Linked DNA regions of Homo sapiens: all the other regions are linked to region 1. Evidence: fine-mapped expression QTL. A gene starts in region 1. Each other region holds a variant in brackets. All regions are shown on one strand. Distances are between the middles of the regions. Region 1 holds the start of NHSL1-AS1 (NHSL1 antisense RNA 1). Region 2 has its middle 23 kb from the start of NHSL1-AS1. Region 3 has its middle 86 kb from the start of NHSL1-AS1. Region 4 has its middle 92 kb from the start of NHSL1-AS1.

What was found. PIP is the estimated chance that this variant, and not a neighbour inherited with it, causes the effect. A credible set is the group of variants that fine-mapping cannot tell apart.
Region 2: its variant is the best candidate, but not a certain one, in a credible set for the expression of NHSL1-AS1 in whole blood (TOPMed, PIP 0.75).
Region 3: its variant is the best candidate, but not a certain one, in a credible set for the expression of NHSL1-AS1 in monocytes (Schmiedel 2018, PIP 0.82).
Region 4: its variant is the best candidate, but not a certain one, in a credible set for the expression of NHSL1-AS1 in blood mononuclear cells (TOPMed, PIP 0.74).

What each region holds. Positions count from the first base shown.
Region 1 is chr6:138,688,910-138,694,906 of GRCh38, forward strand. It overlaps NHSL1-AS1 (NHSL1 antisense RNA 1), which reads left to right and starts at 2,759. Exons shown (of 4, transcript NR_033896.1): 1 at 2,759-3,059; 2 at 5,484-5,638. LOC124900217 (collagen alpha-1(III) chain) reads left to right here and starts at 3,817. Exons shown (of 2, transcript XM_047419637.1): 1 at 3,817-5,997. The coding sequence starts at 3,854. The coding sequence ends at 4,783. It also overlaps a transcript of NHSL1 not described here. RefSeq lists an enhancer at 2,154-3,353 and silencers at 3,476-3,525, 3,536-3,885, 4,366-4,425, 4,466-4,605.
Region 2 is chr6:138,711,374-138,717,370 of GRCh38, forward strand. No RefSeq gene overlaps it. Among named protein-coding and RNA genes, the nearest start is that of NHSL1-AS1, 23 kb to the left of the region's middle. The variant A/G (reference allele first, on the strand shown) is at 3,280.
Region 3 is chr6:138,602,684-138,608,680 of GRCh38, forward strand. It overlaps a transcript of NHSL1 not described here. Among named protein-coding and RNA genes, the nearest start is that of NHSL1-AS1, 86 kb to the right of the region's middle. The variant G/A (reference allele first, on the strand shown) is at 2,669.
Region 4 is chr6:138,596,238-138,602,234 of GRCh38, forward strand. It overlaps a transcript of NHSL1 not described here. Among named protein-coding and RNA genes, the nearest start is that of NHSL1-AS1, 92 kb to the right of the region's middle. The variant T/C (reference allele first, on the strand shown) is at 3,330.

The DNA of each region.
Region 1 (5,997 bases):
TCTCGATCACTTACATTGGTAGCAGTATTGTATTTTTAGTATTGTATTTTTGTACTTGTACTTAGTATTGTATTTAGTACTGTATTTTTAGTAGGGACGGGGTTTCAACATATTGGCCAGGCTAGTCTTGAGCTCCTGGCCTCAACTGATCCACCTGCCTCAAAAGATCCATCCTCCTTCCTCCCTAAGGTTTTTATAGTTATTCTTCCTGACAGTAAGCACTAAGTCACTAAGTATTAATTCAATTCAAACATCTATTGAGCTATCACATCCAGGCATTGTTCTAAGCTCTAGAAAAACAAAGACTCGGCCATCCTGGACCTCAAAGGTCCTGCTGTCTGGCAGAGGGGTGCAGAAGTCCCCTTGGTAAATGTGGTGATCGAGGTGAACCAATGCCATGGGAACAGCCCCTCAACCTGGGGGTGTCAGGGAAAGAAAGTAGGAGTCTTCAATGAACAGAATAATAACATGCATTCTCCCCAAGGCATGACAAAAAATTATTTTGGATAACTTTCTACCCATGAGATTTTGAGGAATGGCAAACTTGATGAAATACCTCTCAGGATCATTGAGGCCAGCAGGGCCAGCCCACAGGACTAAAATACTGTCTCTGTATTGCAAAGAGTGTTTATACATTTTTTTAAATTGTTCCACTGACATTCTCACATCCTTTCTTATGGTAGAAAGCTATTATTGGTCACTGAAATATGCTGTCCCCAACTGCTAGAGGCTTTTGGTAAACTGCTGGATTCTGTTAATTGCTCCTGGGGAGACTCATTAAATGGTTTATCTGACAAGAAGGGTGGAATTAACGGTCACAGTTATCCTTAGGACTGTTTAAGGAACATATCTAAACTTTGCTCCCCATTTCCACACCTTTTTTTTTTTTGAGACAGTCTCGCTAATTTTTGTATTTTTGGTAGAGACGGGGTTTCGCCATGTTGGCCAGGCTGATCTTGAACTCCTAGCCTCAAATGATCCGCCCACCTTGGTCTCCCAAAGTGCTGGGATTACAGGCATGAGCCACTGTGCCTGGCTCCACACTCTTCTAAAGGGAAGGAACACAGGCAGTGGGACGACAGGCGAGACAATCAGAAGGTTTGGGCTTCAGGCCCGGATGTGTCATTACCCACAGCCTAACCTGGGGTGAATTAACTGCAATGCTGTTGGACTGGATTTCCTCTCTGGGTAAGAATTCACGAAATGGATGGCCTTTACGGTCAATTCCAAGTCTAAAAGTCTAGCCATCCATACTAATGGAGTATGATATTCTGAAGACCTGCCTAAAATGGCAGAACAACTTCAAACTGTAGTTTTTACACAGAAACAAGGTTTGAGGCATTGTTTTAAAAGAATCCTAACAGATGGTAATGCATAGGCATTTCACTGCTTTTAAGCACATAAAAAAGCAAAGTGTGTGAAGGTGAAAGAAACCACAAAAATTAATGTCTTGATAGTCAGCTTTCTTCTCTACATGTACATTTATACTCAGGCATAATTATATTCAATAAAAAGCCTTCTTGCATGATTATTAAAAAAAAAAAAATGGGGCCACGTGTGGTAGCTCACACCTGTAATCCCAGCACTTTGGGAGGTCGAGGCAGGTGGATCGCCTGAGGTTGGGAGTTAAAGACCAGCCTGACAAACATGGCGAAACCCTGTCTCTACTAAAAATACAAAAATTAGCCGGGCGTGGTGGCGGGCGCCTGTAATCCCAGGTACTCTAGAGGCTGAGGCAGGAGGATTGCTTGAACCCAGGAGGCGGAGGGTGCAGTGAGCTGAGATTGCACCACAGCACTCCAGCCTGGAAGACAGGTATGAAATCACAACCACTTAAGATTCAAACAAACTTGTGAAAAGTTTTGAAAAGAGTTATTTCAGTTACTGTAATTAGAACAACCTTAGTTAATATGGAGAATTTGGGGGATTTCTGGCTATGGACAGTAGCCTATTGGGGCATATGTACTAAAGAACAGAGAAAAGTGATACATTTAAATGTAAAACCAAACTAGTAAAGGAAGGAGTTCTTGACCTTCAGGGAGTTTCCTCTTGTTTTTTAATTCCCACAATAGATCAGTTCACCTATCAATCAGATCTCCCTCATCACATTCTTTGTCAAGGGTAAAATTCTGGTTCTCCCACGTACCTACACCCTAGACAGAAAACGCATAGAAGCAACTCGTGATTGCCGCATAGACCATGACATCCTACTAGGACAGTGTATCCTACCATATGCATGAAGTCATCACTCACATTAAGTAGATATATTCTGATTATGTCAACAACCTTATGAGATCACTTTGATTCCTCCCCACTGATTTTTTTTTCTTGGAGGGGGACGCTCTCCCAGGTTGGGAACTGTCCACAATTCATATGAATGTGTTGACGGCACAATCAAAGAGATGAACGCAAAAATGTAAAACTGCCACGAATTAATTATACAACTTGGAGAAAGATGTATTATAGCAAGCAATCTCACTGAAATTAAATAATTGAAAATTTTGAACTCTTAGGCTGTAAGGTAGTTAAAATATAGCTAAGTTTTTCTAGCTAGCTGGAAAACGAGCTATTCGAGATTGCATATGAAGTGATTCTAGGAGAAAAAACTATTTCATCCAGAGCTGCTGAAATCTAGGCGTGTGTTACATCAACATCTCCCCTCCCACCCAGCAATCCATCAACCATCTCCAATTTATTCTTTACACTTAGGATTATGACCAAGTTCACGTACTTAAAAGGGAGAAACCACAGAGACATCACACTGAAAGTTTCTCTGCTTTGGGCCAGCAGGAAATTCCAGTTGCTTCATTCACCGGAGCCAGTTAAGCTGCTGAAATGAAATGGATCACCGGAGAGATCACTATATCAGGACATAGACTTGACTTTCAGGGTTGGAGGAAGCCGGACAAAGATGAATGGGATTCAGAGCCTGAACTCAAGGTCAACGTCTTCTGAATCACAAAGAGCTGGTGGGTCAGTCTGGGAGAAGAAAGAAAATTCTGCGCCAAATGGGAAAACCCTTAAAGTCTGCATAGTTTTGCTTGTCGGTAAGAACACAGGTAGGCGGCGGGAAGAGAGGTGGCAAGCAGCCCCAACGCTCGCCGAGATCCCCAGGGTTTTACAAACGGATCGTCCTGAAGTCTCCAAAACTGTAACTACTATATGCCCAAATTTATATTCTCCCCTGGCTTTTCCAACAGGCTACCTGCCTGTGACAGTTTTCCCACGAACTTGGCTCTCCTCTGTCTACAGCGCCCCGGGGTCTCCCAAACAGACAGACACAGACAGACAGAAGGAGCAGACAAGGGGACTGTCCAATTCCCACCCTCCGCGCCCACTCTCTCGAGGTAGCCAAGACCCTCCAGGAGTCCGAAAGTCACAGAGCGCTCTGCGCCCCTGCCACCTGCCCAGCCTCCCGCTGGGGTCCGGCAGTCCCCACTGGAGACCCCGACATCGCGGGGCTCCGCGGCCCCCGCGCCGACCCAGGGCCGCCAGGGGGCGGGCGGGAGCAGCTCTCCGGGTGCCTCCCCCGCCGGTTCCCCTCCCCCGGCCCGCCGGCCACTCACGGATTTTCACTCGGCGGTGGTCCAGGCGCGCAGCGGCGGCTTGCAGGGCGTCGAGGCGGCGGTGCAGCGCGGCGGTGCGGTGGCCCAGCGCGGCCGCCTGGCCCTCGAGCTCGCCGAAGATGTCCCCGGCGCAGCGCGACAGGTCGGCCAGCTGCGCCAGCAGGCAGCCCAGGGCATGCGAGCTGACCTGCTCCAGCGAGCGGAAGAGTGGCGCGCCCGCAGCCCCGGCCCCCGCCGCCTCGGGCCGGCGCAGCCGCGCGGGCTCCAGGGTCCTCTGGTGGAAGGGCATGGCGGGGGCGGGCCGGCGGCGCGGGATCCCTCAGTCTGCCTCCCGTCGGCGCGGGGCGCCAGCCTGCATCCAACACAAAGGAAGTCCCGGGCAGCGGCGGGGCGCCGAGGGAAGCCTGGCGGCCCCTGCCCGCAGGGGAGAGGCCGGGCGGGCAGGAAGGACGGACGGACGGACGGGCGCGCGGGCGAGCGGGCACCCGGGCGGCGCGGGGCAGGAATGGGGTCCGAGCCGTGGCTGCCTGGCGCCCGGCGGCGTTCCTCCACCCGCAGGGCTTCGCGGGCCGCGCGGCGAGAGGAAGTTCCAGGGGCAGCTCTGGGCGGCGGCGGCCGCGGCGGCGAGGGGAGCCGCGAGTCCCGCTGAAGTTTGCAGGCGGGCAGGAAAGCGCCGGCTGCTCCTTCCCTCCCTCCGGATTGGAGAGGGAGGAGGAAGCGAGGGAAGTGCCGCCGACACCGGGCGAGAGGGAGGGGAGGCGAAAGAAAGGAAAGGGGGAGGAGAAAAGGGCCGGCCCGGGAACCACCTGCGGCTCCCGCGGCTGCCGCGCCCAGCGCCCGCAGCCAGTGGCGGCCCCGGCGCCTCAGCGCACCCTGTCGGGGCGGGTGCGGGCGCACAGTCCCGGGACGCCCACGTCGCCGCCCCAACTCCCCTTGGCAGCCCCCGGGCGGTGGGGCAGAGCCCTCGCCCGCCCCCCGGGCCGGGGTGCAGCGCAGTGCGGGCGCCGGGAGGGCGGAGGCGCCAGGACGGCCGCGGCCAGCTCCGCTCGCTCTGCTCACCTGCGCCCCTGCCCACGGCGCTCCGCAGTCAGGAGCGCCCCGCCCCGCGGGGAACGCCCCGGGCCCCTCGGGGTCCCCCTGCTCTCTCCTACTTCCCTTCTGGAAGGTGGCCAACACTTCTGGGCCGCCCGGGTGGACCTCAAATAGAACGTCTTTAAATGTCCGGTGGCCAAGGGTTCTGTAGCCGACTAGGAGTCAGCGTCCGACTCGGAACAACTCAAGACCTCTTTTCAGGGGGCGTCCAGTGAGTTTTTTTCAGCAAGGTGACTCCCCCTGTGGCTGCCTGCTACTACAGCTGGAAAGGTCCAAGCTGAAATGTGACTAATCTGAGTTTCTTCCACCAAGCATGTTAGTTAGGGGTGGAGGACTAGAACCTAGAACCCTGAATTCGAGCCTGGAAGATATGTAAGCCACATGCTATTGAGATCGTGGTCATGGGACACCCGCTAACACAAACCTTCTGGTAGGAAGTTTTTGAGAAGACTGGGTCCAATATCCCCAAGCTAAAATCCCACTGGCCCATCGCTGTGTTTGCTCAGAAAAGGAATCTGGGTTCTTTGGTTTCTGCTTTCCAGTTGACCCTGGTTGCTCCTCTGTTTTACGGCATTTTGGGAGTCGGTCTCCCAGAGCAGCGCTGATTGTAATGAGAAGCGCGTTCCCTCTCTGGGGGACAGGAGCAGTGGGAGAAAAATGGGCCTGGGAAAGAGCTCCTCCAAATAAAACTTATTAGACAGATACGGGTTATGGTGTTGGTGGTGGTGGTGGTGGTGTTTTGGTCTTTATCCTGTTGTACAGCGCCTCATTTTTTACAATGTGGGCCAGTAACTATTTCGTATCACCTACTCTGACCACCTTCAGGGTTGTTATGAGGCTCAAAGGAACGGCTGCTGTGAAAAAACATGCTTTGCAATTTATGAAGCACTGGATAAACATCAGGAACGGTATAAAAGCATGCTGCTTACTCAAGAAATACTAGTTGAGTGCCTGTGTGTTGGGCACTGGCTAGAGATAAGGTAATGTGCAAAGCTGGCTCTGTCCCTGCCATCATGAGACTCTCGTGTAGTGGACCATGCATAACATTTTTAAATTATATACAATATGGCCGGGCGCCGTGGCTCACGCCTGTAATCCCAGCACTTTGGGAGGCCGAGGAGGGCGGATCGCCTGAGGTCAGGAGCTTGAGACCAGCCTGGCCAACATGGTGAAACCCCGTCTCTACTAAAAATACAACAATTGGCCGGGCGTGGTGGTGGGGGCCTGTAATCCCAGCTACTCTGGAGGCTGAGGCAGGAGAATCGCTTGAACCCGGGAGGCAGAGGTTGCAGTGAGCCGAGATCATGCCGTTGCACTCCAGCCTGGGCAACAGAGCCAG
Region 2 (5,997 bases), 22 kb after region 1:
AGGGGTTGGGGACCCACTTGAGGAGGCAGTCTGTCCATTCTCAGAGCTCAAACGCCATGCAAAGAGAACCACTGCTCTCTTCAGAGCTGTCAGACAGGGACGTTTAAGTCTGCAGAAGTTGTCTATTGCCTTTTGTTTAGCTATGCCCTGCCCACAGAGGTGCAGTCTAGAGGCAGTAGGCCTTGTTGAGCTGCGGTGGGCACCCAGTTCAAGCTTCCTGGCTGCTTTGTTTACCTACTCAAGCCTCAGCAATGGCCAACACCCCTCCCCCAGCCAGGCTGCCACCTCGCAGATCGATCTCAGACTGCTGCGCTAGCAGTGAGCAAGGCTCCATGGGTGTGGGACCCACCAAGCCAGGCACAGGAGAGAATCACCTTGTCTGCCATTTGTGAAGACCTTGGGAAAAGCACAGTATTTGGGCGTGAGTGCCCCATTTTTCCAGGTAGTCTGTCATGGCTTCCCTTGACTAGGAAAGGGAAATCCCCTGACCCTTTGTGCTTCCCGGGTGAGGCAAGGCCCTGCCCTGCTTGAACTTGCCCTCCATGGGCTGCACCCACTGTCCAACCAGTCCCAATGAGATGAACCATGTACCTCAGTTGGAAATGTAGAAATCACCCGTCTTCTGCATCAATCATGCTGGGAACTGCAGACCAGAGCTGTTCCTATTCAGCCATCTTCAAAATTTCCCCTACTTTTCTCTTTTTTTTTAGAGACGGAGTCTCACTATTTTGGCCAGGTGGGTCTTGAACTCTTGGCCTCAAGCAATTCTCCCACCTCAGTGTGCTAGGATTACAGGTGTGAACCACCATGCCTGACTTTTTTCTTTTCTTTTTGTTTGTTTTTTTGGTGTTTTTTTTTTGGCATGTGTGACAAGGTCTTGCCATGTCACTCAGGCTGGAGTGCAGTGGCTCAAACACAGCTCACTGCAGCCTCCACTTCCTGGGCTCAAGCAATCCTCTCACATCAGCCTATCAAGTAGCTGGGACTACAGGCCTGTGCCACCACATCTGGCTAATTTTTGTATTTTTTGTAGAGATGGAGTTTTGCCATATTGCCTAGGCTGGTCTCCAACTCCTGAGCTCAAGTGATCTGCCTGCCTCGGCCTCTCAAAGTGCTGGGATTACAAGCGTGAGCCACTACACTTAGCCTGGTATTCTTTTTACTTGAAGAGGGACTCCAAAATTTCATACGTTTCAGGATACCTAAAACCTAGATTTATGCCTCATCTCAATGAAAAGCAATTCAGCGTGTATTTTGTCCAAAGTAAGATTGTAACTACAGCAAGCCAGCTCTCATCTATAAAATACCATTTTAATTGCTTACAACTGAAGAAAAATATGCATCTATTTGGTTCATCAAGCAATTCTCCTACTTCAGCCTCCCAAGTAGCTGGGACTACAGGTGCGCACCACCATGTCTGGCTAATTTTTTGCATTTTTAAATAGAGACAGGGTTTTGCCATGTTGCCCAGGCTGGTCTAAAACTCTTGAGCTCAAAGGGTCTGCCTGCCTCAGCCTCCCAAAGTGCTGGGATTATAGGTGTGAGCCACTATGCCCAGCCAGGATTTTTATTTTTTATTTTTATTTTTTTGAGATGGAGTCTCACCCTGTTGCCCAGGCTGGAATGCAGTGGCACAATCTCAGCTCACTGCAACCTCCGCCGCCCAGGTTCAAGCAATTCTCCTGTCTCAGCCTCCTGAGTAGTGATGACTACAGGTACCTGCCACCATGCCCAGCTAATTTTTGTATTTTTAGTAGAGACAGTGTTTCACCATGTTGGTCAGGCTGGTCTCGAACTCCTGACCTCAGGTGATCTGCCCGCCTCGACTTCCCAAAGTGCTGAGATTACAGGCATGAGCCACCATGCCCCAGCCAGGATTTTTAAATATTCAAATAAGCCCCATTGTAATTTCAATAATTATCTTTTAACTGGTATTAATAATTTATCCATAATTCACATTGCCTTGTAAACTAGGGGAACTTGGCTATAATTCAAATATACAACTGATCTGGTAATAGATATGATCGGACTTGTAAAAATTTGTGCCTCTAAAGATTTGAGAACAAGTATACTTTCAGAACAAAGTATACTTTAAAAATAACCAATGTAGTAAGAACATAAAAAGTTACATGTCCATTATGACCTGTTGGTAAGGACATTAAAGTTTTATCAAACTAGAACATTTATGAAATATGAGAATCTTTCATCAAAGAACAGTCTTTCTGTAGTTTAAATGCAGCAATTATAATCCCAACCATGCTTGCTAATCTTAGCTACCGGGAAGTTAGAAAGAGAGAAAGGTAATTCATAAGACAGCTTGGTACCCAAAACCACCTAGGTTTTTGTGGTCTATAGTCAACACCTCAAATTATATCGAGAAACAAACAGGCAGCCAAAGGGAAATGTAGACTACAATTCTAGCAACCTATAATTTTATTCCTTGTAGTTTGTGCCTCTCCACTGCAAAGTGGCTCTAGTCTGCCTGGTCCACAGCTTCCAGTTGGCCTCTTAGAGTGTGTTGCAGACATCCAGCCAAAAGCTCACTATGACCATCTAGAATAGTGCTCCCAGAAGCTGTCATGGAGTTTTACCCATAATGGGTGCTCACCCCTAAATATCTGTTAGTAATGATACCATGACAATTATGGCAAGCGAAGACTGACTCTGGATGATCTGGCTCACAATCCCACCCAGATCAACTTGCACAGTCACTTATACATGAGTCATGGTCCTGATTCTATTGTTGAAATAAAAGGTTTGGTGAAGTGCTTTTACACCTTGAGAGTGAAGAGATTAAGTCAAGGCCAAGTGTCTCAAACTTGAGGGTAAGAATGGAGAGTAGAAAGCTGACCATAACAGAAAGGGCCCATATTTTTGAGTTATGACACTGATTTCCTGCCTTAAAAATGACTGACATTTTCAAGGCACCTACCATTTACTGGGGATTATGCCAAGGGCTTTTTATGCCTCATCTCATTTTATATCTACAAACAGGCAATTTTATTAGTACTGTTATTTTGCAGGTAAGGAAACAGATTCAGAGGGGAAGCATAGCAGCAAACGGCTAGTACCTGAGGGAAAGACCCTAGATTTAAACGTAGCCTGCTGGCCTCAAGAACTTGGACTCAAGAGCTGGGAAACATCATGCCAATGTTTCCCAAAGTTTGAAACAGAATCTCTGGCAGTCTGTGACAGGATTTTATTTGGTGCACAGATGCTTCATTAAATTTTGAGAAAGTTATTTTCTTTGAAGTTCTTTCAATTTTTCTTTTAAATCTA[A/G]GTTTCCATTTCAGGTCATCTCTTTGCTCATGCATATGAGTATATACTGTTAGAAGCAACCAGGCCACATCTTGAATGCTTTGCTGCTTAGAAATTTCTTCTGCCAGATACTCTAAGTCATCTCTCTCAAGTTCAAAGTTCCAAAGATCCCTAGAGCTGCCAGTCTCTTTGCTAAAGCATAGCAAGAGCAACCTTTACTGCAGCTCCCAGTAAGTTCTACATCTCTGTATGAGACCACCTCAGCCTGGACTTCACTGTCTATATTACTATCAGCATTTGTTCACAACAATTTAACAAGTCTCTAGGAAGTTCCAAACTTCCCCTCATCTTCCTGTCTTCTTCTGAGCTCTCCAAATTGTTCCAACCTCTGCCCATTACCCAGTTGCAACGATGCTTCCACATTTTCAGGTATCTTTATAGCAATGCCCCACTTCCCGGTACCAATTTTCTGTATCAGTTCATTCTCTTATCGCTATAAAGAACTACCTGAGACTGGATAATTTATGAAGAAAAGAGGTTTAATTGACTCACAATTCTGCAGGCTGTACGGGAAGCACGGCTGGGGAGGCCTCAGGAAACTTACAATCATGGTGGAAGGTGAAGGGGAAGCAGGCACATCTTCACATGACAGAGCTTGTGAAGAAAGAGGGAAGGGGGAAATGCTACATACTTTTAAACAAGCAGATCTCGTGAGAACTCACTATCATGAGAACAGCAAGGGGGAAGTCCACCCCCATGATCCAATTACCTCCCACCAGGCCCCTCCTCCAACACTAGGGATTACAATTCAACATGAGATTTGGGCGGGGACACAGACCCAAACCATATCAAGACCTGAATGGCCAAAACAACTTTGAAAAAGCAAAACAAAGTTGGAGAGCTAACTCTACCTGATTTCAATGCTTCCTATAAAGATATAGTGTTCAAGACAGTGTGAGATAGAAGTAAAGGTAGACAAATAAATCAGTGAAACAGAAAAGAGAGTGGAGAAACATGCCCACACATAAATGGAAAACTGATTTTCAACAAAGGTGCAAAGGCAATTCAGTGGAGAAGGGATCATCTTTTCAAAAAATGGTGCTGGAATAATAAAACATCCATATGCAATAATAATAACCTTTTATCCATGCCATGTGCCATATACAAAAATTAGCCCCAAATTGATCATTGACCTAAATGTAAAACCTAAAGCTAAAAAACTTCTAGATGCTAACATAGGAGAAAATCTTTGTGGCCATGGGTTAGGCAGTGATTTCTTAGATACAACACCAAAATGATGATCCATTTTTTAAAAACTAATATATTGGACTTAATCAAAATTTAAAAATGCTCTTTGATGGATACTGTTAAGAGAAATAGAAGACAGACCATAGATTGGGAGAAAATACTTGCAAAGCACATATCTAATAAAGGACTTGTATTAGAATACAAAGAACTCTTAAAATAAAGAAGTTGCCCTGCAGTAAAAGAGTGAAATTGAGAAGCAAAATGAGTCCTGGCAGCATTGCCTAAATGTTGCTAGACTGGGGCTAGATGTAGCTAGACTGGGGCTTTCCCACAGTTTGATTACATGAGCCCATGAATTACCCTTTCTGTCTGGTTCACGTAAGGTTTCTATTACTTGTCACCAAAAATACATCCTCATTTAGAGGAATGGAAGTATGAGAGAGAGGATCCAAAAGATGGAACATAAAAATGATTTTTCTATAAGAGTAACTGTTGAGAAACAAAAGATTTAGTGTGATCACAAGGAACTGGTGGCTAACTTGATCATACACTTGGCTATGAGTTTAGTTTGTTTTGTTTGTTTGTTTGCTTGTTTGTTTGTTTTTGAGACAGACTCTCTATCACCCAGGCTGGAGTGCAGTGGCATGATCTTAGCTCACTGTAACCTCCACCTCCCAGGTTCAAGTGATTCTCCTGCCTCAGTCTCCTGAGTAGCTTGGATTACAGGCATGTGTCACCCACACCCGGCTAACTTTTGTTTTTTCAGTAGAGACGGGGTTTTGCCATGTTGACCAGGCTGGTCTCAAACTCCTGACCTCAAGTGATCCACCCACCTCGGCCTCCCAGAGTGCTGGGATTACAGGCATGAGCCACTGCGCCCGGCCAGGTTCATTTTTTTACTGAGTATGTATTATATTTTTAAAAAATAATTTCAACTTTTATTTTAGATTTGGGGGTACATGTGCAGGTCTGCCACATGGAAACGCTGTATGACGCTAAGGTTTGGGGTATGGATGATCCCATTACCCAGGCAGTGAGCACAACACCCAACAGGCAGTCCCTCAGCCCTCAGCCCCCTCCCTTCCTCCTCCCTAAAATTTTTAAAGCACACATATTTCAATCCAAAAAAAATTAACTGCTGGATATTTACCCTAGATAAACCTGTGCACCAAGAGAAATGTGTAAAGATATTTGCCACAGCTTCATTGTAATAATAACACAATTACAAACAACTGAGTTGTCCATCAAAAAAAGACTAGTTATGCAATCCATTGTAGATTCCTATCGTAGCTGGGCTAGGTGGCTCATGCCTGTAATCCCAGCACTTCCGGAGGCCAATGCAGGAGGATTGCTTGAGGCCAGGAGTTCAAGACCAGCCTGGACAACATAATACCCCTATCTCTACAAAAAAAAAAAAAAACTACACACACCAGTAGTCCCAGCTACTCAAGAAGCTGAGGTGGAGCTTGAGCGCAGGAGTTCGAGGCTGCA
Region 3 (5,997 bases), 86 kb before region 1:
TTTTGTTAGATTTACAAATGTTTGTTTCATCTAATTTTTTTTCCCAACAATATGGGGCATTTATCATTTCCCATGGATAAAGAGAATCCACTTGGAACTGAATATAGCATGCCTTTTGTTCTTTTCATCATTGGTAGGTGTAAGTGTTTAAAATTACATTCTCCTCATCAGATGCATTAAGAATCCATGCCTTCAAGGGACTGTGGTGTTGTGACAAATTAAAACAGAATTCCTTCCCGGACAGTTCATAAATCTAAAATGGAAATCATCATGGCTAAATCTATGAAGCACCCACAGAAAAAGCCCTCCAAACAAACAGAGAAATTACATTATAAACAAAAATTAATTCAGCTCACATTGTTGTTTGCTGGTTTTCTTTTATGGAAAGAAGATACCTTCCACTCCCAAAATTAGCTACTTAAGCAATGGCCAAAATATAACTATCAGTTTTAAGCTTTTAAAGCCAAAGAGTATATTGAGAGGGGATTATTTATACCATTTGAGGATTCTGAGGGGTTTTTTTAAATTTTACATTTTTTTTATTTTTTGTAGAGATGAGGTTTGTCATGTTGCCCAGGCTGGTCTTGAACTCCTGAGGTCAAGCGATCCACCCATCTCAGTCTCCCAAAGTGCTGGGATCACAGGGATGAGCCAACTGTGTCAGCCTGGATTCTGAGCATTTTAAAAACACCACCACACACAGTGCTCTAGCCAACAGGGATCTTTGATTAGTGTAAAGGTTTCCCATGCATTCCTGGGTGAGCACTATGAGGTTTGGTGGTACCTGTAAATAGTGTTTTGAAGGTCTTTTAACAGACAATTCCTGAACACCTACAGGCTGCTAGATCCCATACTAGGAGCCGAGGAATAAACAGACATAAATGAGCTCAGCCTTGCCCTCAAGGGGCTCAAAGTCTAATGACAGAAGACAAACTTGAAAATTACCACTATAAATTATTGTAGATATAGTCAGACTTATTTTAGTCCAAACTCCCCTTCTCGTACTTTAAGTCTCTTATTCTAAGAGCATCTCATCCCTTTAAAACAGAAGCATGTCAGGTACACTAAATGCTACCAAGGAAAATATGTATAGTTGCAGGGCAATGTAATTTGATGGAAGTTTAAGATTGGTTTTCATTTTTCTTTAAGAGAAAAATCACATACCTGTACCAACCACATATAAAAGAGAGAATGTGTAAAACATATCATGAATTTTAAGTCTTACCTGGAACTAATTTTAAACACCACACAGACTCTGAATAAAAGAGATGTGTCAGGCACATTGGCCCCTTGGAATGGATGGGGCAATAAAAATGTGTTCAGTACCAATACAGTGTTCAGTATGACACTTACACAAGAGCTCCTACGAAAACATTTTAGAAGCTTCATCATCAGCGTTAAGTTTTGCTAAGTGAGTTGACCACCCAGAGCTAACATGGATCAACTTAAGTAGCTCTAAATATTTTTGTTTCAGAAGTCAAACTGTTTCTAAGTATCCAACACCTTTCCCATCAGTCAACTAAAAAGAAAAATAAAGAAGTTTGATAGGAACCTTGCAAAGCTCAAGTTTCCCAAAGACAATTAATCAGAAGGTTAATGCATTCAGAATGCCAGAGGCTTCCCTGTATTCATGAAAAGCCATGTATGAGAAGTAATCATCTAAGGCAGCAGTCCTTAAACTTCAAAAATCTAACGAACACTAAGGATACTTTCTGCAGAAAACACAAATGCTATCCCTAAAATCCACAGCTTAGGGTTAAGAAGCCCTGCTCTACAACTAAGAAGCAAGGAGGGAAGGCTCTTTCTGGTTAACCTCTTACAATAAGGCACAGCTCTCTGATTCTGCAACTAAAATAATGCCTGGCAGAAAGTAAAGAACTCAACAATTATCTGGTGAATGAATGAATGAATGATGAGTATGTTATTTGCACTATGATTTATTTATTTAAAATAATTTTTTTTGAGACAGTCTCACACTGTCGCCCAGGCTGGAGTGCAGTGGCGTGATCTTGGCTCACTGCAACCTCTGCCTCCTGGGTTCAAGCGATTCTTATGCCTCGGCCACCTGAGTAGCTGGAACTACAGGCATGTGCCACCAAGCCTGGCTAATTTTTGTATTTTTAGTAGAGACGGGGTTTCACCATGTTGGCCAGGCTAGTCTCCAACTCCTGACCTCAAGTGATCCGCCCGCCTCAGACTCCAAAGTGCTAGGATTACAGCAAGAGCCACCACGCCCAGCCTGCACTACAATTTAGTCATGACAAATTGTTTCAAATTTAAGGAAAATATCTGACTTACTTGACTGACATATCCTAATTACTTTTCTTTTACCTTTTCTTCTGAAATAATTATAGACTCACAAGAAATTGCCAAAATAGTACAGAGATTGGTACACTCCTCACTCAGCTTCTCCCAACAGTAACATCTTACATAACCTGCACTGCATTATCAAAAGCAGAAAACTGACTGGCATGAAGCACAATTAACTAGACAACGGACCTGACTTGGATTTCACCATTTTTCGCATGTACTCATCTAACTACCTTTTTTGTTTGTTTTTGAGACAGGGTTTTGCTCTGTTGCCTAGGCTGGAGTGCAGTGGTATTATCACAGCTCACGACAGCCTCAACCTCCTGGGCTCAAGCAATCCTCCCACCTCAGCCTCCCG[G/A]GTGGCCAGGACAACAGGCGTGCGCCAACAGGCCTGGCTAATTTCTTTTTTGTATAATTACCTTTTCATATAAGCAAATAAAAATATAAACTCTCACATTCTCACCCCCCACAAAAAAAAGTTTACCAGAATTAAAATACTGTGGCAGTCAAAAATGGAACAGATTTTCATCAGCTCAAAGCATAAAAAGACAAAGGTGTCAGCTATCTTAAAACTGTTCTAGCTCCAGCTTCACTCATATTGTGTCTACCCACCACGACTTTGATTTGAAAGCTATTTCTAAGACATCAGGCACAAATATAAAGGCAACAATTCATCAAAGAGAAGCATCATATGATTAAAATAATTTTGCTTTCAGAGAACAGACTCAACACCATATTCATCTGATTAAGGTAAGTTTCTACACTGTTAAGAATCTGTTCACTCAATAGTGTCTCTGCTGAAGGGAACTACTTGTAGTTTTGAGAGGAAAATGGCCAGGTCTCTTGAATAGCTATCAAGCAAGGCAGAAGTGTGGTAATGTGGAAAGTGCGTGAGTACGAGAGTCATAAATTTGGGGTTTATGTAATATCCTTTGATTTCTAATTGCATATCCTTGAACAGCTCACTTAACTTCTCTGAACTTCAACTATAGGAATAACTGGAGAGGTTTGCTGTTCTGCTTTTTAAATATGGATTTTGTGAGCTCAGAATCAATAACATGGATGAAGGGGCTTCACAAAACTGCAAAGTGCTTTGTGTATACAAGTTGTTCCTGCATTCTCACAGCCCCCTGCTGTGCCTGCCACCCACAGAATGACAAGCCACCCACAAATCACAACCCACACAGGCTCCTCTGGCCTGAAGAGGCTGCAGAGGAAAGACCTGGCACCTTCCTCCTCTTCTTGCAACCAAAATACTTCATTCCCCACAGAGAAAGAACTTACCACTGTCTCATTTCCATCTGCGATAGAGTATGATTAATTAATTTCATCAACTATCATCACAACATTTCAAAATAACAAAATGATACTAAGCCCCACGGCATCCATGATGATGGACTTTTAAAATGTCTATTGATTTAGTAAGCTTACAGAATCAGCAGCAGCTTCGGCATATTGCCCTTGTCATTCTTGATCAATTAAATAGGCTGGGATTAAATCTCTTTTGTATGCTTTACAAAGCCGTCTACAACAAGGGCCCTTATCACAGATCCACTTCATAGGTCTCTTGACACCAGCCACCTAGCATTGTGTCCCCAGTGCCCATATTCCCCAGCAAAATCATGCCATTTATTGCCTCCGTGCTTTTTGTGACTGGCAGTGTCCCTACCCCACCTTCATCTGGCTACTTCTTTTTCTTTCTTTCTTTCTTTTTTTTTTTTTTTTTTGAGACAGAATCTCACTCTGTTGCCCAGGCTGGAGTGCAGTGGCGCAATCTCAGCTCACTGCAAGCTCCGCCTCCCAGGTTCACGCCATTCTCCTGCCTCAGCCTCTCGAATAGCTGGGACTACAGGTACCCGCCACCGCACCTGGCTAATTTTTTTGTATTTTTAGTAGAGACGGGGTTTCACCATGTTAGCCAGGATGGTCTCGATCTCCTGACCTCATGATCCGCCTGCCTCAGCCTCCTGAAAGTGCTGGGATTACCAGTGTGAGCCTCCACGCCCGGCCCCCATGCTACTTCTTTAATCAGCTAAGATAGGACATCCTCAAAGAGGAGGTGCCCCCAGGTGCTACCATCAAAACCTATGCATCTGTAGGTAATGCTCCACACTGTTTGGGAATTATTTCCTCTTCTTTATTTCCCTTTTCCAATTCACTCAACTTTGGATCTCTGGAAATTAGCATCACGCCTGACACTCTTAAGTGCTCAAGTAATAAATGCATCCATTCACTGAACACAAGCTATGGTGTTAATGCTGTCAACAGAAAGATGATTCAGTCAGTCTCCCTCTTACAAGTCTCTGACCTTATTGCTATGAACATTATTTCTAAATATACTATCATCGGACAAAACCAACCAAAAAAACAAAAACAAAAGTATTTACCCAGATTAGCCTTGAAACAAGTGAGAGGTCAAACTACTTCATCTGGTTCATAAACAAAAAAAGCAAACAAAGAATATTATAGCAATGTAATTTTCAATTTAGCACAACACACCTTAAAACTGTGCGTGTTTTTATGAAGTTGAGTTGGAAGTGAGATGGAATATGATCAGGATTAAAATTGTGATGGTTTGATTTTTTTCTTCAGCATACAAAAGCTTGGGGAATTCTAGAAAAACAAGTTGTGGTACATGGAACAAAAGCAAGAACAAAAGCTGTGGCCAATGCCTCATACATGCAAGGACCGCCAGGAGTCATAATCGGAGTGGGGTTTCTTGTCAGCTTCCTTCCTTCCCATGAGGCTTTGAAGTTAAATGCTTCTGTTTCAGAAGGACAACTACTCCAAGGAATTATATTCAAGAGACCAAATGGGTGCTTTGTAATGTCTTCAAATTCATACCTCCTAAGAAACAGAATCAAAAGTTTCATGACTGAGACTCCAAAGATAAGTGACAGAAGGAGGGAGCAGGATGCCTCTTTTGGACCTTAGAGGTCCTCCTACGAGACACTGTGGCATTCCCATGCACCCCAACAGAAGGGCTGAGCTCCCCCAAGTCCTAGGATGCTAACCTTCAACCCTGTCAGCTTCGCTCACTGTCTAGCTGCAGGACCAAGCGGAACTGCGCAGCAGGGAACACTCTTCTGCAACAGTGAGCCCCAACAAAAGAATTCTAGACCAAGAAAACACTTTCTCAAAGGACATATTTTAGCTCGCGAGAGGATAAATCTTACTAAATGAAGGCTTTAGTCTGTTTGAAAGGCACTAACATGTCTGCCTGTCAGAAAATCATGAAAATTACTTTGAATGACATGTTTCTCATACTGAGTAATTTCTGAGATAAAGGAAGTCAGTTTCCAACGAGATAGCCTCAAGATTCTAAATCTTAGCACCAATAATCCAAACACAAAAGCTGTAATTCATACATGAAGCAGAATTTTAACAGTTGGCCTTGGAAGAAATTAGGTCATTTTCAAGTTCTCTATGTCCAAGTCAGTTGAAACAGATAAAAAATGGAGTTGAAAATTTTAAAATGAGTTTCAACTCAATGTGAACTCAATAATTCCTGCTTTCTCTATAAAATAGGCATCATTATAATACAGTAGGATCTGTAGCACAAAAATCCTTTCTTGAGCCTATTAAGTTTGATAAAACTTGTTATCCATACTGAAAATTTTATTTCTACTTTGTCCAGTTAACTTCCCATAAAGAAAATTCCTGATCAATGACTACTAACTACGAACT
Region 4 (5,997 bases), 93 kb before region 1:
AACGAAGAGGTTAAATTACCTCCCCAGGGCTCTCCCAGCATTCCATCCAGGGTTCCCATCCACCAGCACTGACGCTACTTGGCAGTTTTGAATAAACAATACAACATCTCAACTATTGTTAAACTACAATGGGAGGCCTCCAGCGTCATGTGGAAATTATTTTTAAAATGAAAGCTTTTTCATCAACTGCATGAAAAAGCACTTAATAAATCCAGAAACAGTCTAAAAGGATTATGTGGACAAGTCAAAATGTGATTTTGATGGACTAAGTGGATTGCTGAGACACATCATGACATTTAAAACCAAGTGCAGAAACTGAACTGTATTTCATTTGTTAAAACGCTTAAGATTATAAAGGAGTGATACATTTGGCAAGGTAGCCAAGGTTCTTGAAAGAATCAGCAGCGCCGCAAAAGGACATCGAGGAGCTCAATGCAGCTAATTTAAGCAGACCTGCTCCTGAGAGGTGAACCAAGCTTGGTAAGTTTTTTAAGTTCACGTCCGTTTCTCACCCACATTCAATTGGCGGGGGTGGGGGGGAAGTTCTGAAAGCTTCCATGAGATAATCCTTTAAAATAGTCTCTAGAGGCAGCGGCAGCAGCAAATTATTCATTCCTACCTTGCGTGAGTTAAGCGTGACAGAAAAACTCTCTCAAGCAGAGTTTGAAGTGCTCAGGGTTCCCGCCTTGCAATCAGAAGTTAAGACCTACCAGGAGATTGAGATCAGCCTGGCCCACGTGGCAAAACCCTGTCTCTACCAAAAAATATAAGAAATTAGCCAGGTGTGGTGGCGGATGTCTGTAATCCCAGATACTCAGGAGGCTGAGGCAGGAGAATCGCTTGAACCTGGGAGGCAGAGGCTGCAGTGAGCCAAGATCACATCACGGCACTCCAGCCTGGGCGACAGAGTGAGATTCTGTCTCAAAAAGAAAAACAAAAAGTTAAGACCTGCAAACAGCGAATAGAATACAAAAGCCTAATTCAGTGCTGGCATATGAAGCATCAATCCATAAAAATGGCTGGTTAGTTTCCGAAGTTTTGATCTGGTGTCATATAGCCTAAAGAACAAAGAATTTACAGGAAATGATTTTAGGAGCCTGGAAATTTTAATTCCATCTCAGATACTGTTATTTCCTTTTAATAGTAAAATCTACGTAACTATTGATTTGACAAGTTTTTCATTTGGCTGCCTGTGCTATTAATCATCACGGAACTTTAGTCCAAAATTCAAATCAAACATCACCATACACGCCTCACTTCCAGGTCCCGGGTACATGTTGTTCGTTTCTGGTTATTCTAGTGTAGACTCCTTGCTTACTTTGGAATTTTGGCAGGAATTGTTCACCATTTCTGAAAAATCATATCACTGACCACCTAACCGCTTGTAGTGTTTGAGTCACTAGCTTTTCATCATGGTAATTCCACACACATGTAAGCATCCAACGGTTTCATTCCATCTTCCAGTAAGTACAGTTTTGTGTGAGCAATGAATATGAAAAGGTAAAAATGGCCTTCTTTAATTTCTCCTTACATTGCAGGTAGGACATTATATTGACTTTTTAAGCATGCATGAATAGATGTATTATATTGGCTATGTGATACTCATTTCAGGGTAGAAAAAAGATAATAAAAATATTTCTTATGACTGAGAAGCACTGACCTACAGGTTATGCCAGCACTTCCCCAGTGACGATGATAATGTCATCAGTGACCTTGATGATGATTTCCAGCAGAGAAGGCGGTGCAGGTGAAACTGTCCCCCACCTTAAAAATCAGCTTTTGGCAGGGCACAGTGGCTCATGCTTATAATCCCAGCACTCTCGGAGGCCGAGGCAGGAGGATCATAGGAGCCAGGAGTTCAGGACCAGCTCAGGCAACATCTCTACAAATAATTGTAGAGATACCCCATCTCTACAAATAATAATTTTTTAAAAAATTAGGCCAGGCGTGGTGGCTCACGCCTGTAATCCCAACAATTTGGGAGGCCGAGGTAGATGGATCACTTGAGGCCAAGAGTTCAAGACCCGTCAGGCCAACATGGTGAAACCCTGTCTCTACAAAAATACAAAAATTGGCCGGGCATGGTGGTGGTCACCTGTAGTCCCAACTACTTGGAAGGCTAAGGCAGGAGAATCGCTTGAGCCTGGGAGGCGGCAGTTGCAGTGAGTCAAGATTGCGCCACTGCACTCCAGCCTGGGTGGCAGAGCAAGACTCCATCTTGGAAAAAAAAAAAAATAGCCAGATGTGGTGGTGCACACCTGTAGCCCCAGCTACTCTGGAGGCTGAGGTCAGAAGATGGCTTGAGCCCAGAAGTTTGAGGCTGCAGTGAGCCATGAACATGCCACTGCACTCTAGCAGCCTGGACAACAAAGCAAGACTTCATCTGGAAGAAAAAAAAAAAAAAAAAAAAGCAGCATTTTTCTTTCTTCTAAGAACTACTAAAAATATATGTGAACATAGACCCTTTCTCCACAATGCTCATAGATTTGGATTTGCTGACCAGACTAAAACAACGTCCAGCGTTTCCTCATCTCTTTGTGGTAGGGTGGGTGAAGCTAAACAATCCCACTAATACTGAATGCTGCCTTCATTCAAAGACGACTGCATCCTCACACTCTTAAGTACAATAATGAAAATGAAATTAAAGTAAATGGACTTACATGTATTTCTCTTTAATTCAGGTTCACCCATATGTTTCTAAACATTAGACTGCAAAAAGTGCAAGAGTCCAAGGTCAGAGCTTAGGGCCTGGAGATCCATCAGATTCCCTGTTTAATCATCAGCAAGTCACCTACTCTCTGTGTGTCCAAGTCATCTAGCTGTAAAATTTGGATCCTATTTGTCTGTTACCTCTTGACCCAGGCACAGAGTATAACCTAAGAAAACATTCTGAGCTACCTAATTGTTTTGGATTCTATTACATATTTTTTTCAAAACAAATTCTACATAATTTAGTGTTTTATGGTAACCAGTACAATATAAAAAAATGTAAGGCCAGGCGCAGTGGCTCATGCCTGTAATCCCAGCACTTTGGGAGGCCAAGGTGGGTGGATCACCTGAGGTCAAGAGTTCGAGACCAGCCTGGCCAATATGGTGAAAGCCCATCTCTACTAAAAGTACAGAAATTAGCTGGGTGTGGTGGCAGGTGCCTGTAATTCCAGCTACTTGGGAGGCTGAGGCAGGAGAATCACCTGAATGCAGGAGACTGAGGCTGCAGTGAGCCGAGACTGCACCATTGCACTCCAGCCTGGGGAACACAGCAAGTCTCCGTCTCAAAAAAAAACAGAAAGATTTAGAACTCTTTAAGGTCTTTTTCTCCTTATATAACA[T/C]ATGCAGAAATAATGGTGCTATTGAAATTAGAATGGACCAAGTGTATAACCCAGATACACAAGAAACTTCCAGTTTCTCATTCAGTGCTTGAGATACCTTAAGATGATCAAATCACAAATGCTCAGTTAAGTCCAATCAGATCTCAAGGCAAGATCTCAGGCAGGGTCAGCTTAGTACCTATAGAAGGCATCAGAAAGTAACTTTCCAATGTCACCTAAATGCCTTCCCTGTTGGTGCTGAGAGATTTCAGGATACAAGGAAGAATGAAGTACCTTTAAAATGAAGCAGGCCGGGCATGGTGGCTCATGACATGACTGTAATCCCAGCACTTTGAGAGGCCGAGGCGGGTGGATCACCTGAGGTCAGGAGTTCGAGACCAGCCTGGCCAACATGGTGAAACCCCATCTCTACTAAAAAAATACAAAAACTAGCTGGGCATGTTGGCATGCATCTGTAGCTCCAGCTACTAGGGAGGCTGAGGCAGAAGAATTGCTTGAATCCAGGAGGCAGAGGTTGCAGTGAACCAAGATTGCACCACTGCACGCCAGCCTGGGCAACAGAGCAAGACTCCATCTCAAAAAAAAAATATTAATTAATTAATTAAAATGAAGCAACACAGAGGTATTTTAAGGTCCACTCAGTGCTTTCTTTTCTGTTCTTTTATTTTCTTTTTCTTTTCTTTTCGAGACCAGTTCTCACTCTATTGCCCAGGCTGGAGTGCAGTAGCACAATGATGGCTCATGGCAGCCTTGAACTCCTGACCTCAAGGGATCCTCCTGCCTTAGCCTCCTAAGTAGTTGGGACTATAGGCATGAGCCTGGCAACCTTCCTTCAATTTGAACTAGCAATGCCTACTGCAAAAATTTAAGTGTTTATCAGCACTGTAAAGGGTCATTAAACTTTAGGTTACTGAGTGAAAAAACCAAAGAACATTCTTTCCAAATGCTTTTAAACTTTTATTTTACCTTTTACTTTGTAACCAAAAGAGAACATTGCTCAAAAAAATCAATTATAATCCTTGCTTCCCTGGGTTTAAGCCATTTGTTTTTCATGAAATTACTATCAATTTAAATGAAAAATAATATTAATACCTTTTAAATTCAGAGCTATACTTAAAATTTTCTTAATGTCGTTGCTAAACCAACACTTAGATCTTACTATCCCTATTAGAGCTTATAGTCTGGCAATTATAGGGATCAAACACTTTAATTTGTGAGAGAAGAAACTCATGTTTTAAAATAACCCTAACCTCCAATATTTCAACATGTTCTTTAGAAAATTCATCCCACAAAAATGGCCACTTCATTCTGTAACATGATATATCTACAAAAATCACTGTGTGTCAGAATACAATAACCACTTGGAAAGGGCTGCCTGCATTTCTAAATCATGTGTAAATCATTTGAAAGTATTTTCTCATAATGATTATGAAAGCATTAAATTCAATAGAAAACAAAGGATTCCATTCAAATGTATGTCCCTTCATTTACTTTTTAAGGTACTAAATGTATAAAATAGAATCTGGATTAACTGGAAAGAAATGAACATAAAATCTGGTTCCACTATAAATCTGAATCACTTATCCCAGAACTTTCTTCTAAAGTAAAACTCACCAGGATTGTTGGGAATCTTTTGATTATACTCCCTGGCCTGACTTTATTTAAATAACTCTTTAATTCTGACATAGCAACCATATTCATTGTTATTTTTTAAATCTGTTATGTTCTCCAGTCCCAAGCTAAACCAACACTTAGATCATTCAGGAAATGTAAAACACTGCTGGCAATCTGTTAGAAAACCCTTTAACCTTTTGTTACACATTCAGCACCATCCCTAGACACTTGTGTGGCTATTGCTCAATTGCACCTGTTATGCAGAAAACTCATACAAGAGGAGTACTATTTTAAAAAATTTACTCTTAGGTGAATCTAAAATGATTAATACTGATTATAAGAGTTTTTCTTGCCCGGGCACGGTGGCTCATGCCTGCAATCCCAGCACTCTCGGAGGCCGAGGCGGGCGGATCACAAGGTCAAGAGATCAAGACCATCCTGGCCAACATGGTGAAACCCTGTCTCTACTAAAAAAGCAAAAGTTGGCTGGGTGTAGTGGCACGCACATGTAGTCCCAGCTACTCGGGAGGCTGAGGCAGAAGAATCGCTTGAACCCGGGAGGTGGAGGTTGCAGTGAACCGAGATCACGCCACTGGATTCCAGCCTGGCGACAGAGCGAGACTCCATCTCAAAAAAGAAAAAAAAAGTTTTTCTTAAATCCAGCAACAGTATCACAAAAACTCAAGAATTTATTTAATAACAAAAACAAAAAACTAAGGCTAAAGAATAAGAAAATGTACACACTTTAACTTTTTCATTGAAAGATCTATCAGACTGCAAACCTATAAAGCCGATAAGTTTATCATTATTTCACAGGACTACAATGAGATAGCAGCATACAGAAAAATGGTAACTACTAATTAAGCTGGGATTTTTAAGATGTGAAGATGAAATATCAGGCTTATGTTTTTAAGCTTGTTATTTTGATATCACTATCAATTTACTAAAAGTTGTGTCAAATTTATAGAATAATTTGCAGGAGAATTGATATCTTTACTATGGTGTGTCTTCCAATCCATGAAATGATATGTCTCTCCATGTGTTCACGTCTTTG